4 linked regions of the Homo sapiens genome follow. The protein of the gene in region 2 purifies or fractionates together with the protein of the main gene of each other region. This does not show direct contact. Each region holds a gene or a part of one and is shown on either strand. Other genes may lie near its edges.

Region 1 (3,363 bases), on a different chromosome or scaffold from region 2:
GGGCATGGGCATGAGTGAGGATAAAGGCGTTTGCTTTATTTTGGGAGTGTGGAACCTTGTTGCAGTTTGTTCATTCATTCAGGAGATGCTTCTTGAGCTTTTGCTAGATGTCAGGTCCTGTGTTAGCTATTGAGAAAATTAATTAGTTACAGTGATGCTAGGTGCTGTAAAAGGCCTGTATAGGGCTGTGTCTTCTGCATTAAGGATTTGGCTCTTCTCTGAAGAGTTGAGTGTGAGTGAGCACAGATGACCTGAGGGTGGGGATTGAGTGGTGTCAGGGGGCAGCGCGTAGGAGGGGCAGGAGGAAGTGGCGGGGCTTTGTTCCTCACTGGGCCTCCCTGCTTCCCAGCTCAAACCAATTCTGGCTGATATCGAGTACCTGCAGGACCAGCACCTCCTGCTCACAGTCAAGTCCATGGATGGCTATGAATCCTATGGTGAGGGGTGAGGGGTGCTGAGGGGAACAGGAAGCCAGACAGGGCCCTAGATTAGCTTGGTAATTTGCTGGTTTGTCCCATCTGCTCCTCAGGGGAGTGTGTGGTTGCACTCAAATCCATGATCGGCAGCACGGCCCAACAGTTCCTGACCTTCCTATCCCACCGTGGCGAGGAGACAGGCAATATCAGAGGCTCCATGAAGGTGCGGGTGCCCACGGAGCGCCTGGGCACCCGTGAGCGGCTCTACGGTGGGGACTCCACTGGGACATGAGATAGGGTGGTGTGAACAGATCAAGGAGGGCAGGGTGCGGGGGGCATGTTGGAATCTCTGGGATACCTGGAGGTTCTGCAGCCACAGCTGGGAATAGTCCTGCCCCAAGGCATAGCTGGGAAAGGGCTGGCAGGCCCACTGGGTGTCTGTGGGATCCAGGAGCCCAGGTCTCCTCTGAGTCTCCCTTCCTGCCCCCTCAGAGTGGATCAGCATTGATAAGGATGAGGCAGGAGCAAAGAGCAAAGCCCCCTCTGTGTCCCGAGGGAGCCAGGAGCCCAGGTGAGCTAGGGCTGTGTTGAATGTCATATGAAAGGGTACCTGGGGGCATCTGGTCAACCCCACTTCATCTCTCTCCTGTGCATCCCTGGCAGGTCAGGGAGCCGCAAGCCAGCCTTCACAGAGGCCTCCTGCCCGCTCTCCAGGTTATTTGAAGAACCAGAGAAACCGCCACCAACGGGGAGGCCCCCAGCCCCACCCCGAGCAGCTCCCCGGGAGGAGCCCTTGACCCCCAGGTGAGAGGAGGAACCTGTCACCGCCCCCCCTTCCCCCACCCACCTCTATCCATCACTATCCCCTGCAGGGTCTCAGGGTTGGCCTGGAGATCATCAGCTGCTTAGGTGCCCTGCCACTCTGTGGTTGGAGCTGCCATGGCCTTATGCCTGTGGCCAGCCAGGCCACCCTTAGCTGTGGCTCTGAGTCAAAGGGAGCAGTCAGCCTTTCCTCTCAATTCTGCCTTTAAAAATGGAATGCGAAATTGTTTCTAAGACAGCTCCCTCCATGTAAACAGACCTAGCTTGAGCCTTCTATTTGGAGGAGGCACATGGCTCGGCCTGGGATTTCCCAGGGTACCTTCTTTGGAACTCTGTCCTGCAAGAGGCCCCAGTTGAAATGGGTTTGTGGTCAAATGAGTTTGGGAAATGCTTTTTCTAGATTCTTTTCTTAGACATTCCCAGTGCATGTTAGTATTAGCAAAAGCTCTGAGCATGTGGACAGGAAGGAAACCTCTTTTCAGCTCTGTTTAATATAGTTTCCCAAACTTAATGGGCCAGGAAACTTATTTTCCATGTAGTAACTATTAACGTTCTGGGGAATTAGTGCTCTGTGTCACACTTTGGGAAAGTGAGGCTTGCTTTCTAATTATATCCGATTGTTGCTTAAACTTACATAAACTCCTAGGTACAGTTTGGTGCTTTTTCACTCATCTTCAGCTGTTGTCAGTCACCCCGGTTTTATCCCTAGGCTTGAATAAGACCCACCTGAATCTCTGAGAAAGATTCTGCAGCGGATTGACTGTGGGTGCCTCAAGAGGCTTTCCAAACCTGGCCTCTCATTGGAGGCTTCTTGCCCTGTCTTCTGGCACCTCTATTCTGACCCATTTAGCTTGGGTTTCACAGCTACAGATAAAGTCATGAAAGATCTAAGTATCTTAGCAAGTGAGGCAAGGGATTGTAGGGTTATCCATTCAAAGGGTTATCCTCCCTCTGACCTTTAGAGATGAAGAAACTAAGGGCAGGTGATGTGCTCAAGGTCATGAGAAAGTCTAGGACCAGGGGACTTTCTGACTCCCGTCTAGTTCTCCTTCCACTGCTTCCACTGCCTTAGACCTGGGTTCCTGGATCCTGGCTTAGTCGTTCTGCTTCCACACCCAGGTTGAAGCCAGAGGGAGCTCCTGAACCAGAAGGGGTGGCGGCCCCCCCACCCAAGAACAGCTTCAATAACCCTGCCTACTACGTCCTTGAAGGGGTCCCGCACCAGCTGCTGCCCCCGGAGCCACCCTCGCCTGCCAGGGCCCCTGTCCCATCTGCCACCAAGAACAAAGTGGCCATTACAGTGCCTGCTCCACAGCTTGGGCACCACCGGCACCCTCGTGTGGGAGAGGGGAGTTCTTCAGATGAGGAGTCTGGAGGCACACTGCCCCCTCCAGACTTTCCACCTCCACCACTGCCGGACTCAGCCATCTTCCTGCCCCCCAGCCTGGATCCTTTACCAGGGCCAGTGGTCCGGGGCCGTGGTGGGGCTGAGGCCCGTGGCCCACCACCTCCCAAGGCCCATCCAAGGCCTCCACTGCCCCCAGGCCCCTCACCAGCCAGCACTTTCCTGGGGGAAGTGGCCAGTGGGGATGACCGGTCCTGCTCGGTGCTGCAGATGGCCAAGACGCTGAGCGAGGTGGACTATGCCCCTGCTGGGCCTGCACGCTCAGCGCTCCTCCCAGGCCCCCTGGAGCTGCAGCCCCCCCGGGGACTGCCCTCGGACTATGGCCGGCCCCTCAGCTTCCCTCCACCCCGCATCCGGGAGAGCATCCAGGAAGACCTGGCAGAGGAGGTGTGTGGAGCAGGGTGGCTGTCTGTGTGTGCCTGAGTGTGCTTGCCCACAGACTGGTACCCTTTCACTCCACCATTCAGCACTCATGGTGTCCCTGCTACCCTGAACTGATCACTGGGAAGTTGGGAGACACATGTATCAGCCCAGCCCTTCCCTTCCTTTTCCCCAGAGCATGCAGCAGAATGTGACTGCAGGTGTTTCTATGGGGGGCACTCAGCTCCCCCTGACATGCCCTGTTTCCTTAGGCTCCGTGCCTGCAGGGCGGGCGGGCCAGCGGGCTGGGCGAGGCAGGCATGAGTGCCTGGCTGCGGGCCATCGGCTTGGAGCGCTATG
Region 2 (4,235 bases):
TCAGCCATTTAAAGTATACAAGTTTTGAGGTGGGTGGATCACGAGGTCAGGAGATTGAGACCAACCTGGCTAACACGGTGAAACCCAGTCTCTACTAAAAATACAAAAACAAAATTAGCCGAGCGTGGTAGCGGGCGCCTGTAGTCCCAGCTACTTGGGAGGCTGACGCGGGAGAATGGTGTGAACCCAGGAGGTGGAGCTTGCAGTGAGCCGAGATCGCACCACTGCACTCCAGCCTGGGCGACAGAGCGAGACTCTGTCTCAAAAAAAAAAAAAAAGTATACAAGTTTTAGTAGCACTTGTGGGCTATTAAAAACAAAGTGTACAAGTCAATGGTGTTTAGTATATTCAGACTTGGGCAACCATTACCTCCATCAATCCCAATTTTCATCATGCCAAAAAGAAACTCCACAATCCCTCCATCACCCAAAGCAAGACCCCCATACTTAAGCAACTACTAATCTACATTGTCTCTATTGATTTGCCTATTCTAGACAGTTGATAGAAATGGAATGATACAGTGTGCGGCCTTTTGTGCCTGGTTTCTTTCATTCAGCAAGATCTTTAAGATGTTTCAGGTTCATCCACGCAGTAGCATGTATCAGAATTCCATTCCTTTTTATAGCTGAATAATATTCAACCTTATTGTGATATATTATTTTCATGCATTCTCTATAACTGCTTCTCAACATGCTAATCTATACTTATTTTTAAAATTTTAAAACAAATGCTTATTTAAGGTCATATATTTATTTTAAAGCAAATTGAAATATCTTACATTAAAATATAGGCTGGGCACAGTGGCTCACGCCTATAATCCCAGCAGATCTGCCAAGGTGGCCAGATCGCTTGACCCCAGGAGTTTGAGACCAGCCTGGGCAGCATGGCAAGACCCCATCTCTACAAAAACGCAAAAATTTGCAGGGTGTGGTGGCGCACGCCAGTGGTCCCAGCTACTTGGGAGGCTGAGGCAGGAGGATCACTTGAACCCAGGAGGTGAAGGCTGCATTGAGCCGAGATTGCACCACTGCTCTCCAGCCTGGGTGATGGAGTCAGACCCGTCTCAAAAAACAAACTACAACTTTCACACACACCAAAACCTAACATGACATTACTAACAGTGGTTAGCAGACTCTGCTGAGAGGTGAATCTGGAAGTATTCCTTTCAGCTGATCAGTAGATAACGGAACAGAGGGAGCACGGACCTAGTCAGGAAGGAGGCCCCATGCCTCCACCCCGTGGGAGAGGGCGTCACCCCAAGCCCAGCCCCACCCACGCATCAACCAGTCTCCACCACATCCTTACCTACATCCATCCACTCTGGAGGGAGCAGGCGACATTTCTGTCTTTGTTTCAGGTTAATCGCCAGCCACAGGGGCACTTCCACGGGTAAACCAGGGTTAAAAGGCCCCAGGTCCCCCTGCCAAAAGTAAAACAATTCCCCGTAAGATTGAAAAAGAACAAAAAAAGCATTACTGTGCGTTACTGCTATCAAATAAGAGGCAAGGCATTGCAGAGGCTGAAGTCCAAATGCAAATAATAAAAACCCAACTGTTACCAGACTCAGAACAAAGCGCCTCCTGAGCGGCTCCGAGACACCTGCGAGCGTGGGGCTCAGTCCTTCTGGCCTTTCCGCGGACAGGATGCAAGTCTCCCCTGAGTGGGTGGGGGGCGCTCCCTCTCCCGCCTGCACCCTCCAACTCCGGAACAGGTTTCACACACCCAATGTTGGGGTCCTGGGGTGCGGGGAGGTGGGTCTGGGCAGGTACAGAGCCTGCCCTCCTTCTCCAGGACTCCCAGCGCCGAGGCGCCTCCCTCATACTGAAAACGCAAAGCCGGGCGGGCGCGGGGGCTCACAATCCAGCTACTCGGGAGGCTGAGGCAGGAGAATCACCTGAACCCGGGAGGCGGAGGCCGCAGTGAGCCGAGATCGCGCCACTGCATTCCCGCCCGGGCGATAGAGCGAAACTCCATCTCAAAGATAAAGACAAAAACAAACAGAGGCAAAGCCGACTTTTGCCCATAATCCCAGCCCTTTGGGAGGCCGACGTGGGAGGATCGCCTGGGGAGCCCAGGAGTTCGAGGCCAGCCGCATCTCTACCAAATAAATAAGCCGGGCGCAGTGGCTCCCGCCTGTCATCCCAGCACTTTGGGAGGCCGAGGCGAGTGGCTCATGAGGTCAGGAGTTCGAGACCAGCCTGGCCAACACGGTGAAACCACATCTCTACCAAAAATACAAAAATGCGCCGGGCGTGGTGGCGGGCACCTGTAACAGCAGCTACTCAGGAGGCTGAGGCAGGAGAATCGCTTGAACCCGGGAGGCGGAGGCTGCAGTGAGCCGAGACGGCACCACTGCACTCCAGCCTGGGCGACAGAGTGACACTCCACCTCAAAAACCAAAAAACAAACCAAAAAAGCCCCCAAACAGATCAAAAAAACCCTGTAAACCCGGGCGTTCGGGGCACTGGCAAAGAGCGCAGTCTCGCTTTCCTCATCCGAGAAGCGGGAACGGCGGTGAGCGAGTCAAGCGCCGAGTGGTGGCCTCCGCAGATGCGGGAGCAGGGCGAGCCCGCGACCCCGGGGCTGAAGGCCACGCGGGAGCCCCGGACGCGCCCAGCCCGGCCTCCCCTCCCCACGGCGGGCCCAGGCCTCACCCCGATGAGGTAGATCTTGTCCAGACTGAAGTTGGGGATAATGGTAACCAGCTCCTTCTCGGCGAGGAATTCGACCTCGGCAGCGTCCATGGCGGCGCGAGCTGCAGGCCAGAGCCTCACGGTCTCCTCGGGCCCCTCAGCGTCCCGGAGGAGACGCCGCGGCCGCCGTTTTCCCGCCACGGCGAGAGCCCGCCCCGGCCGGAAGACGGCCTGCGCCAGCCTATAGGAAGGCGGTAGACAGCCTATAGGCGCTGTCTGCGGGCGGGGGGGCGGAGACCGCGCTCGCGAAGAGCCCGCGGATTGGCAAGGCCGAGGGAGGCTGCGCGCCGGCCCCGCCCCGGCCCGCGGACAGGCCCCGCCCCCACCCCGGCCCCGCCCCGCCCGTGGGCGTGCACCTGGCGCTGTCAGGATCTCCTGCCGCGGGCGCCAGCTTTGGTGTCCCTTCACCTGTCCCCGGCGCCCGCCGCAAACGGCCCTAATCAAGAGCCGGGGGTGGGGTTCCGGGCCGCTTCTACGCCGGCGTTCCGCATGGGGCCAAGAGTAAACGCATTTATTTTATTTTAATTTTTAAACAACTTTTCGTGGATTTGGGATCTTGCTGTGTTGCTCAGGCTGGTCTTGAACTTCCGGTCTCCAGCGATCCTCCCATCTCGACTTCCCAAAGTGCTGGGATTACAGGTGGGAGCCATCGTGCCAGGCCAAGAGTACAAGCATTTATTGGCCCAAACTCAGCACCGGGCCCGGGACTAGGCATCACCCGGGCTGACAGATAGAGGGATGAGGGAAGACCTTGTTTCCATTAATTTCACAATCTTCTGCCCTCTCTGCACACATTGTTTAAAACAGCTGTAAAAATGCAGATTCCTCCATCCCACCCCACAGCTTCCAATTCGGACACTTCAGAGCAGGAGCTCAGAATTTGCACTTCGGCAGGAGCCCCACATGAGACAGGAGCGGCAGGTTTGCACCACCTGAGCAAATACTCACCTGCTCGCTGGACCGGCTGCCCCTGTACAGTGGGCGCAGGTGAAGCCAGAGCGGTGGCTGGAGCTCACCTGTGTCAGAATCCCCTAGCGGGTGCCCATTGTCTGTGTGCACGCTCCTGGGAGTTGGGATTCCGGAGTCGTGGAAAGGACAGAAAGCTGAATTTCATCCAGGGCCAGGTGATTTTGATGGGGTGGTCATGGCCGGAAAAGCTTCCTGGGGGTGAAGCGCTATTCTAGGACTGCAGTCGAATTTGAAACCTTGATAATTAGGCCCGCGAGAAAAATCACAGGAGACATGAGGATTCCAGGGTTTGGAATTCCAGCAGAAAGCACCCCCTGCCCCCGCCCCAGCTAACCGGATGCTCTCCTCTCCAACCTCCCTGAAGCCCCATAGAGGGTCACTGGGAAGGTGAAAAAAAGCCGTAAAGCTCACAGGCCTGCTCACAAAGCTGTGTCTGTTGTGTATCTGCCTTAGAAGTTGTTATTTACAGATCTGGAGTTTTCGCTGAGTTACTTTCATGTGTGAAGACACATACTCTTGGCCAGGCACGCCTGTAATCCCAGCACTTTGGGAGGCCGAGGCAGAAGGATCACT
Region 3 (4,423 bases), on a different chromosome or scaffold from region 2:
TGGGAGGCAGAGTGAGACTCCATCTCAAAAAAAAAGGCCGGGCTCGGTGGCTCACACCTGTAATCCCAGCACTTTGGGAGGCCGAGGCAGGCAGATTACCTGAGGTCGGGAGTTCGAGACCAGCCTGACCAACATGTAGAAACCCTCTGTTTCTGCTCTATCTCTGCTAAAAATACAAAATTTGCCAGGTGTGGTGGCACATGCCTGTAATCCCAGCTACTCGGGAGGCTGAGGCAGGAGAATCGCTTGAACCCAGGAGGCGGAGGTTGTGGTGAGCCGAGATAGTGCCACTGCATTCCAGCCTGGGCAACAAGAGTAAAACTCTGCCTCAGAAAACAAAACAAAACAAAAAACAAAAAAAACAAAGAAAGAATATATAAGATACATCTACTACGGTAGCCATAAAAATTGAAACAAAAATTGCTCTAAAGTATGTAATATTTACCAACACAAAGATGAGGATTAAAATTTAAAAAAATAAGAACTATTTTAGAAGGATAGGTGACTAGGATTAGCCTTAAATTATCCTAGCCCACACCTCCACCCAAAAGTAGGGAAGATAGATGTAACAGAAATAGCCAAAATGTTTATGAGGTTAAAACTGGGAAAGGAATGGAGTTGTTTAGTGGGTATAGAGTTTCTGTTTGGATTATGAAAAGGTTCTGGAACTAGATAGTGGCAATGGTTACACAACACTATGAAGGTACTCCATGCCACTAAATTGTACACTTAAAAATGGTTGAGGCTGGGCGTGGTGGCTCATGCTTGCAATCCCAGCACTTTAGGAGGTCAAGGCAGGAGTATCCCTTGAGGCTAGTTCAAGACCAGCTTAGGCAACAAAGGGAGACCCTGTCTCTATTAAAAAAACAATTATTTAGCTCAAGCAGCAGTTCTTTACATTTGTGCAGTCTCTGAAGAAGGCCAAGATGTAATCCTTTGGTCCTATTCTGGCCTGGAGGGCCACACCTTTCTTCCACTCAGCAGTCCCAGAGACTTAAGAGCTGCTGTATCACTGCTGCTGAGGCTTCTTTCGAAGGTCCTCACTGAAGCTGCTCAGCCCTTCCTCCTAAGATGAAGTTTCAGAGCCTGGCCATCCCCACTATCACCTTCTTCTTCATAGGCTCCAGTGTGCTGATGCCTTAAAATATGGTTCCCAGAATGGTTCACAATATTCCACATTTATAAAGCAAAGACCTATACTGATCTCACAACAGGTCTTTGTGTTAATACAAACGAAGGCAGGGGCATCAAACTACATTACTCATGCTTTCCCACCATGCACTTGAAGTATTTAAAATAGGAAGAAAAATCACAGCTTCAATTAGGAATATCCTTGGTAAAGCAGTAAAAATGAATCGTGACCCACTTTTTAGTACCCTATGTTATGAAACACGCAAAGCACTTCTGCTGCATACACAAGCATGATGGCTGCTGCAGGAAAAGCACTTGAGCTACAAGCTGAACTAGCTGTTCTTTCTATAGAACAAACTATGGTTAATTCAGACATGGGTACTAAGTTTTTTAAAAATGAAGTTAAGTCTGTTCCTTGAAGTAAAAGAACAGTATTTGGGTTTTTTGTTTTGAGACAGGGTCTTGCTCTGTTGCCCAGATTTGAGTGCTGTGGTGCAATCACTGCTCACTGCAGCCTCAATCTCCAGGACTCAAGTGATCCTCTAGCCTCAGCCTCCCAAGTAGGTGGGACTATAGGCATATACCACCACACCAGCTAATTTTATTTTTGAAAAGACCAGGTCTGGACATATTGTCCAGACTGGGCTAGAGTGATCCTCCTGCCATGGCCTCCCAAAGTGTTGGGATTACAGACATGAGCCACAGCACCTGGCCAAAATAACAGTATTTGTTGCCAATGGTAAAATTTAAGCTTTCAAGCAAAAAAGAGTTTCGGAAAACCTGTATCCATCAACATAAGCCTGACAGTCTTTCAATACTCAGAGACTTTTCTAACAGCTATGGTGAATGTGACTTTGATACTGTATAACAAAATGTACCAACATCTGGAACATCTGCATGGCTCTGCCTGGCTCAGTGAACAGGTCCTTTCCAAATCACCAACACCTTACAAATGTATGCACTGGTAAAGGATCCAGTCGGAGTACAAGATAAAGTGACTTTTTTTTTTTTTTTTTGATACAGAGTCTCACCCTGTCGCCCAGGCGGGAGTGCAGTGGCGCAATCTGGGCTCACTGCAAACTCCACCTCCCAGGTTCAAGTGATTCTATGGCTTCAGCCTCCCAAGTAGCTGGGACTACAGGGGCCCACCACCATGCCCAGCTAGTTTTTGTGTTTTTAGTAGAGATGGGGCTTTGCCATGTTAGCCAGGCTGGTCTCAGACTACTGACCTCAGGTAATCCGCCCGCCTTGGCCTCCCAAAGTCCTGGGGTTACAGGAGTGAGCCACCGCGCCCAGCCAAATGATGAACTCTAATGTAAAAGTATGAAGAGTTTATTGATAAGGTTTTAGGTTTCACATTGCAACTAACCTTCATAGAAACTACTGCTTATTGAGTTTTGGTATAGAATCAAATATGAATATCCAGAATTATTTGATTACTCCTCCCATTTCCAACTATTTATCTGTGCAAGGATTGAGCTGCTCCATAAAAGTCAACCAAAGCAACACATTCCAAGAGTGGAGACAGATGCAGGTATGAGAATCCAGCTGTGTTCTATTAAGCCAGACATTTAGAAGGCTCCAAAAATGTGAGTACACAGAAGGCTCCAAAAATGTGAGTATACATGAAAGACAGGAGAAGAATGTGCAGAACAAAGGGAGGTGACGGCCCCCCTAGCCCTGAACTGGAAGGCCATGCTTAACCAGAGACTCATCAACCGTGGAGCAGCCACATACTTGAGCTCCTTCAGAAGGTCCTGATCAAGACGGAAAATCACATAAATCATGACGTGGGGAAACTTCGAAGAACATTCGACTTACACAAAAGAAGTCTTAGACGTACATACAGCTGCCATTAGGTTCTATGAAAATGATGCAATCACACTCATTTCATGCCCGGGTGTGCAGGTCTAATCAGCATGATGTAAAAGCAACCAGGCGACAAATACTCTCCTGAACCTTCCAGGGGAAGCTGGAAGCCAGAGTGTGATCCTGGAAAGACATTCAGAGTCTGCTTTGTACGTTCTAAGCTTCCAGGGAGACTCCTTAAAATTGTGAAGTCTTTCCAGAACACTAAGCTTAATTTTTCTTTTTTTTTTTTTGGAGACAGTCTCTCTCTGTCGCCCAGGCTGGAGGAGTGCAGTGGCATGATCTCAGCTCAATGCAACCTCCGCCTCCCTGGTTCAAGCAATTCTCCTGCCTCAGCCTCCCAAGTAGCTAGGATTACAGGTATGTGCCGCCACACCCGTTTTGTATTTTTAGTAGACATGGGGTTTTGCCACGTTGGTCAGGGTGGTCTCAAACTTCTGGCCACAAGTGATCCGCCTGCTTCGGCCTTCCAAAGTGCTGGGATAACAGGCATGAACCACTGCACCCAGCCACAAAGCTTAATTTCTAATAGAAACATAAATTGAAGGCTGGGTACTGTGGCTCACACAATGAGCCTTGGGAGGCTGAGGCAGGAAGATCCCTTGAGCCCAGGGGTTTGAGACTAGCCTGGGCAACATAGAGACACTCTGTCTCTACAAAAAAATACAAAAATTAGCTGGGCATGGTGGCGCACCCTGTAATCCCAGCTACTTGGGAGGCTGAGGTGGGAGGATGGCTTGAGCCTGGGAAGTCGAGGCTGCACTGAGCTATGATCCTGCCACTGCACTCCAGCCTGGGTGACAGAAGGAGAGCCTATTTCATAAATAAATACATGTTTCTAACTCATATGTGGGGAAAACGAGGCTCAGAGAGGTGAAGAAACTTACTTCAGATCACACAACTAACACATGGCTGAACTGATGAAACTCTGGTCTGCCTTATTCCAAAGCCAGGGCTTTTACATGAACCGTCATGCAGAGACCTCTTAGCAAATCCAAATATTTCTGGTAACACTTTTCATAGAGGATAATGGTTTGGAACTAAGCAATGGAACACTTGGAGTGAAGAAGGATAACAAACCTAAACGACTTGACATTTGACATGTAAACAGCATTTTAAAATAAGCTTTTCAATAGCTTTACAGGCCCTAGCATCAGTGAAAACTAGCTGTAGTTTTTATACACTGCTTTCCTTCCTATTACATACAAATCTTAAAATATGCTCAGAGACAGGAAGTAGAATGGTGGTTGCCAGGGACCTGGGGGAAGGAGGGCAATAGGGAATTACTATTCAAAGGGGACAGGGTTTTAGTTTTACAAGCTGTAAGAGTTAAGGAGCTGGATAGTGGTGATGGTTATACATTACGAATACACTCAATATCCCTGAAATGTATACTGAAAAATGGGTAAAGTGGCACATTTTA
Region 4 (4,423 bases), on a different chromosome or scaffold from region 2:
AGGAAATAAAAATTCTGGAGTTGAAAAATATAGTAAAAATTCTCTAGAGGTGCTCAGATTTGATCAGGCAGAAGAAAATCACTAAATTTGAAGATAAGTTCACTGAGATTAGTCTAAGAAACAGAACAAAAAAAGAAGAATGAGGGAAAATGAACAGAGCCTTGAAGACCTGTGGGATACCATTAAATGCAACATCAGATACACAGTGGTAGTGTCAGAAGGAGAGCAGAGAGAAATGAGGCAGAAAGAAACATGGCCAAAACCTTCCCAAACTTGTTGAAAACTTCCCCAAAATATGAATTATTCTGCACCTCCAAGAAGCTCAACAAACTCCATGTAGGATAAACTCAGAGATCCACACATAGACACATCATAATCGAAACTGTCAAAAGCCACAAAATCTTGAAAGCAGTGACAGAAAAATGACTCAGTGTGTACAAAGGATCCTTATCAGAAACTAGTTGGCTTCTCAGTAGAAACCAGAGGCCAGAAAGTGGTGGGAGGACATATTCGAAATGATGAGACAAAGACTATAAACCAAGAATTCTACATCCAGCAAAACTAGCCTTAAGGAGAAATTAAGACATTCCCAGATAAACAAAAACTTAAAAGAGGGCTGGGCGAGGTAGCTCACACCTCTAATTCCAGAATTTCGGGAGGCTAAGGAGAGAGGATCACTTGAACCCAGGAGTTCGAGACTAGCCTGGGCAACATAAAGAGATCCCCTATCTGCACACACACAAACACACACACACACCCAAACAAAACAAAAAAACCCAAAAAACAAAGAATTAGCTGGGCACAGTGGCACATGCCTGTGGTCCCAACTACTCAGGAGGCTGAAGTGGGAGGATCGCTTGAACCTGGGGGGGTTGAGGCTGCAGTGAGCCATGATCACAACACTGCACTCTAGCCTGGATGACACAGCGAGACCCTGTCTCAAAAAAAAAAAAAAAAAAAAAAAAGAATTTGCACAAGTAGACCTGCCATGCAAGAAACACTAAAGACAGTTCTTCAGGCTGAAATGAAAAGATACTAGACAGTAACATGAACCCACATGAGGAAATAAAGGGTGCTGGTAAAAGTGATTGCATAGGCAAATAGAAAAAATAGTACAGAAGTCTTTTCCATTTCTAACTTTTTTCTCTAAAAGACAACTGCAAAAGCAGTAATTCTAAATGTGTTGATGGACATACAATGTACTGAGAGGTAATTGTATGACAGGAGCACAAGGGAGAGGAGAAGGAACGGAATTATAAAGGGGCAAAGTCTTTGTATAATATAATTAAAATGGCATTAGCCACACAAATTTTTTTTAAATTAAAAATAACTAAACAAACTGGCATTAATCCCTAATAGATGATTATACTAACATGTTAAGTTTATCCCCCAAAGACAACTACTAAGAAAATAACTTTAAGAAACTTCAAGGGATTAAAATGGGACACTGGAAAATACCTATTTCAAACAAAAAGACAATAATGGAGTAACAGAGGAATAAAAAAAGACATGACAGAAAACAAATAACAAAATTACCTTATCAGTAATTATGGTAAATGTAAATTGGTTGCATACTGCAATTCAACACAGGGAAATCCTTTATTTTAACCTAGACATACCTTGGTTATTTCATCAGATATGCTATATTCCAAGAATCTCAAAAGAGTTAGATAAATGCGGAATTTGTTCAGCACGGAAGGCAGCACCGCTGAGAGAAGGCTGTTCATGTACTCCTCCATGTTTGGTGGAATTAGCTGGGGCTGTAAGTGAATCTGGCAGTCTGCCTGAAAAGAGAAGGAGTACACTGTATTTTCTGAGTTCCTAAATTAATCTACATTTTTAAAGAAAGATGCATCATCTCTGTCAGCCCCTATGGGAATTAGAAAATACCACTTATTATTTAGGGGGAGGGAATAATGTTTTTTTTTCTGTGTGTGAGACAGGGTTTTGTCCTGTCACCCAGGCTGGAGTGCAGTGGTGTGATTGCAGCTCACTGCAACCTGCTTCCCAGGCTCAAGTGATCCTCCCACCTCAGCCTCCTCAGTAGTGGGACCACAGGTGCACGCCACCATGCCTGACTAATTTTGGATTTTTTGTAGAGACAAGTTTCGTCATGTTGTCCAGGCTGGCCTCAAAGTTCTGGGCTCACGCAATCCACCTGCCTTGGCCTCCCAAAGTGCTAGGATTACAGGCGTGAGCCACCGCAGCCAGTGAGCATCTATTTTTAATATTAATTTACATGCTTTATAACTACCTCAGAAATAATTATGAAAGCTTTTTCTTGGTTACTTATGTTTCCTCAATGGTATCAGTAAGCACACAAAAATGTAGCCAACCTCTAAAAAGCAGCTAATTAAAAAGGTCTATCAATACTTGCACACAGAAAACATATCCTTGAGCCATTTCATTCTTAGTCAAAGGCGGTTTCTCATCAATCGCAGGTGAATACTATTATTCAGAGACTACACACCATTTGACAACTGGGAGCATTTCCCATCATCCACAGAATTAAAAGCTCTCTTTACCAGCCACTCTGAAGACATACCAGAGCATTTCACCACAAAGCATGAAAATAACTACCAAGTGACCAAGGACATTTTAAAAGAACTCTGAAATATTTTTCACATAAGATTAGCAGAAAACAATGGGTCAAAGGTAGCAAGAACAGAAGTCTGGATGTTAAAATCAGGCAATCTCGCTATGCTCAGATGTGGGTGTTTCTGCTGCCAACAGCCTTGCTGGTCTCATGACTTGCTGATACCTGAGCTTGGTAGATGTAAGGTTTTCATCCATGGCAGTGCAAAATACTCAATTCCCTTAATGATCAGCAGTCACAGTTTTTTTTTTTTTTTTTTTTTTTTTTTTTTTTTTTTTACAACAAATGTAACTTATTAATAAGCGGTACCAAGAAACAGCAAAAATGTAGGTATTTTTCCAATGTCAACCTCCCTCCATTTAAAAATGACTCATCATACCGGGAGGAGTGACCTCCCCTCCGAAGTAATGAAAACGTTAATATTGCAGGGGAATTCCATCTGATGGTAGCTGAAGTCATAATCCACCTTCTGCCACGTTATGAGGTTGCTCAGGGCTGTCACATTATGAACACCTACAAAGGCAGGAAAACACTTTCAGTCATTTGACTTTAATCATCTAAACACATCAGTTTTGCTGACACCGATGATGAGCCATGAAGTTTCTACCACTTTTAATAAAGGGTATGAGGCGCTGTCCAGTTTACTAAGCTAAACGTCACTAAGTGTGTAGGCTTACAACAGTCTTGGTCAAGGTAGAACTTTCTGGGGGCAGGCGATACCCCCGCAAATCTAATACCTAGCATCTGGTATGCACCTAGACATAAAATAGTTCCCAAGTATGATTATTTCTAAGTGGTGTATTTACAGGGCTAAACCAAGGAAACACTAAAACTACCGTCATACATAGATCAGCCTAGTGAATTTTACAGATTTTATATTCCCCTTTGCCTTAAACATGCCCAGTCTACCTCATTTTTTCTTCTACCTTTACCTCTTGAGCTGATCGCCAGCAGTGTATTCTTAATTGTCTTCATTTGAGCACTGGTAAACAATCTGCTTTCTTGTGATTTTATAATATATTCCGCAACTGAGGTTAGTGCAAACCATTTGATCTATTATTTCTCAGACATTCTCTGAAAACCATTTACAAACTTTACAACGGGAGGTTAAAACATAATTAGCCAGGCGTGATGGCGGGTGCCTGTAGTCCCAGCTACTCGGGAGGCTGAGGCAGGAGAATGGTGTGAACCCGGGAGTTGGAGGTTGCAGTGAGCCAAGATTGGCCACTGCACTCCAGCCTGGGCGACAGAGCAAGACTCCGTCTCAAAACAAAAAAAAAATTATATTAGATCTTTTCTACACTTCCCTTTTGAGGTATTAGATGACTAAAGGCAAAGCTTCCTCCCATTTCAGCTTTTTAAAAAGCTATTTGGGGCAGGTGCAGTGGCTCACACCTGTAATCCCAGCACTGTGGGAGGCCAAGGCAGGAGGATCACTTGAGCCCAGGAATTCAAGATCAGCTGGGCAACATAGCGAGACCCTGTCTCTACCATTCCTTACACTCACTGAAAAAAAAATTTTAGGTTATATACAACTACGCAAAAGAACCCAACACTGTAGGCCCATAAAGACTGCTCCAACCATTCGCTGACACAATAAAACTTTTCACCAAAGAACCCTTACGACCCTCAACATCTAATACTACCCTTTATATTACTGCTCCATTATACTAATACTACCCTTTATATTATTGCTCCATTATATAATATATAAAATATATAATATATGATATATATTAAATGAGACATTATATATTATATATGATATATATTATATAAGATATATTATATAAGATATATATCTGTTCCATTGTACTACTTTCAGAA

What was found.
Region 1: the proteins of GINS2 (region 2) and INPPL1 purify together in Homo sapiens (affinity purification with mass spectrometry; one large-scale study listed by BioGRID and IntAct). This does not show direct contact.
Region 3: the proteins of GINS2 (region 2) and EIF4H fractionate together in Homo sapiens (co-fractionation; one large-scale study listed by BioGRID). This does not show direct contact.
Region 4: the proteins of GINS2 (region 2) and MCMBP purify together in Homo sapiens (co-immunoprecipitation; 2 studies listed by IntAct). This does not show direct contact.

What each region holds. Positions count from the first base shown.
Region 1 is NC_000011.10:72,234,767-72,238,129, forward strand, and holds part of INPPL1 (phosphatidylinositol 3,4,5-trisphosphate 5-phosphatase 2), read left to right. Parts: intron 1-349; coding exon 350-437; intron 438-529; coding exon 530-685; intron 686-908; coding exon 909-987; intron 988-1,079; coding exon 1,080-1,220; intron 1,221-2,357; coding exon 2,358-3,030; intron 3,031-3,275; coding exon 3,276-3,363. UniProt on the Homo sapiens protein: Phosphatidylinositol (PtdIns) phosphatase that specifically hydrolyzes the 5-phosphate of phosphatidylinositol-3,4,5-trisphosphate (PtdIns(3,4,5)P3) to produce PtdIns(3,4)P2, thereby negatively regulating the PI3K (phosphoinositide 3-kinase) pathways.
Region 2 is NC_000016.10:85,686,155-85,690,389, forward strand, and holds the start of GINS2 (DNA replication complex GINS protein PSF2), read right to left. Parts: upstream 2,801-4,235; 5' UTR 2,745-2,800; coding exon 2,655-2,744; intron 1,421-2,654; coding exon 1,306-1,420; intron 1-1,305. UniProt on the Homo sapiens protein: Required for correct functioning of the GINS complex, a complex that plays an essential role in the initiation of DNA replication, and progression of DNA replication forks.
Region 3 is NC_000007.14:74,177,356-74,181,778, reverse strand, and holds part of EIF4H (eukaryotic translation initiation factor 4H), read right to left. Parts: intron 1-4,423. UniProt on the Homo sapiens protein: Stimulates the RNA helicase activity of EIF4A in the translation initiation complex. Binds weakly mRNA.
Region 4 is NC_000010.11:119,833,921-119,838,343, forward strand, and holds part of MCMBP (mini-chromosome maintenance complex-binding protein), read right to left. Parts: intron 3,110-4,423; coding exon 2,976-3,109; intron 1,785-2,975; coding exon 1,620-1,784; intron 1-1,619. UniProt on the Homo sapiens protein: Associated component of the MCM complex that acts as a regulator of DNA replication.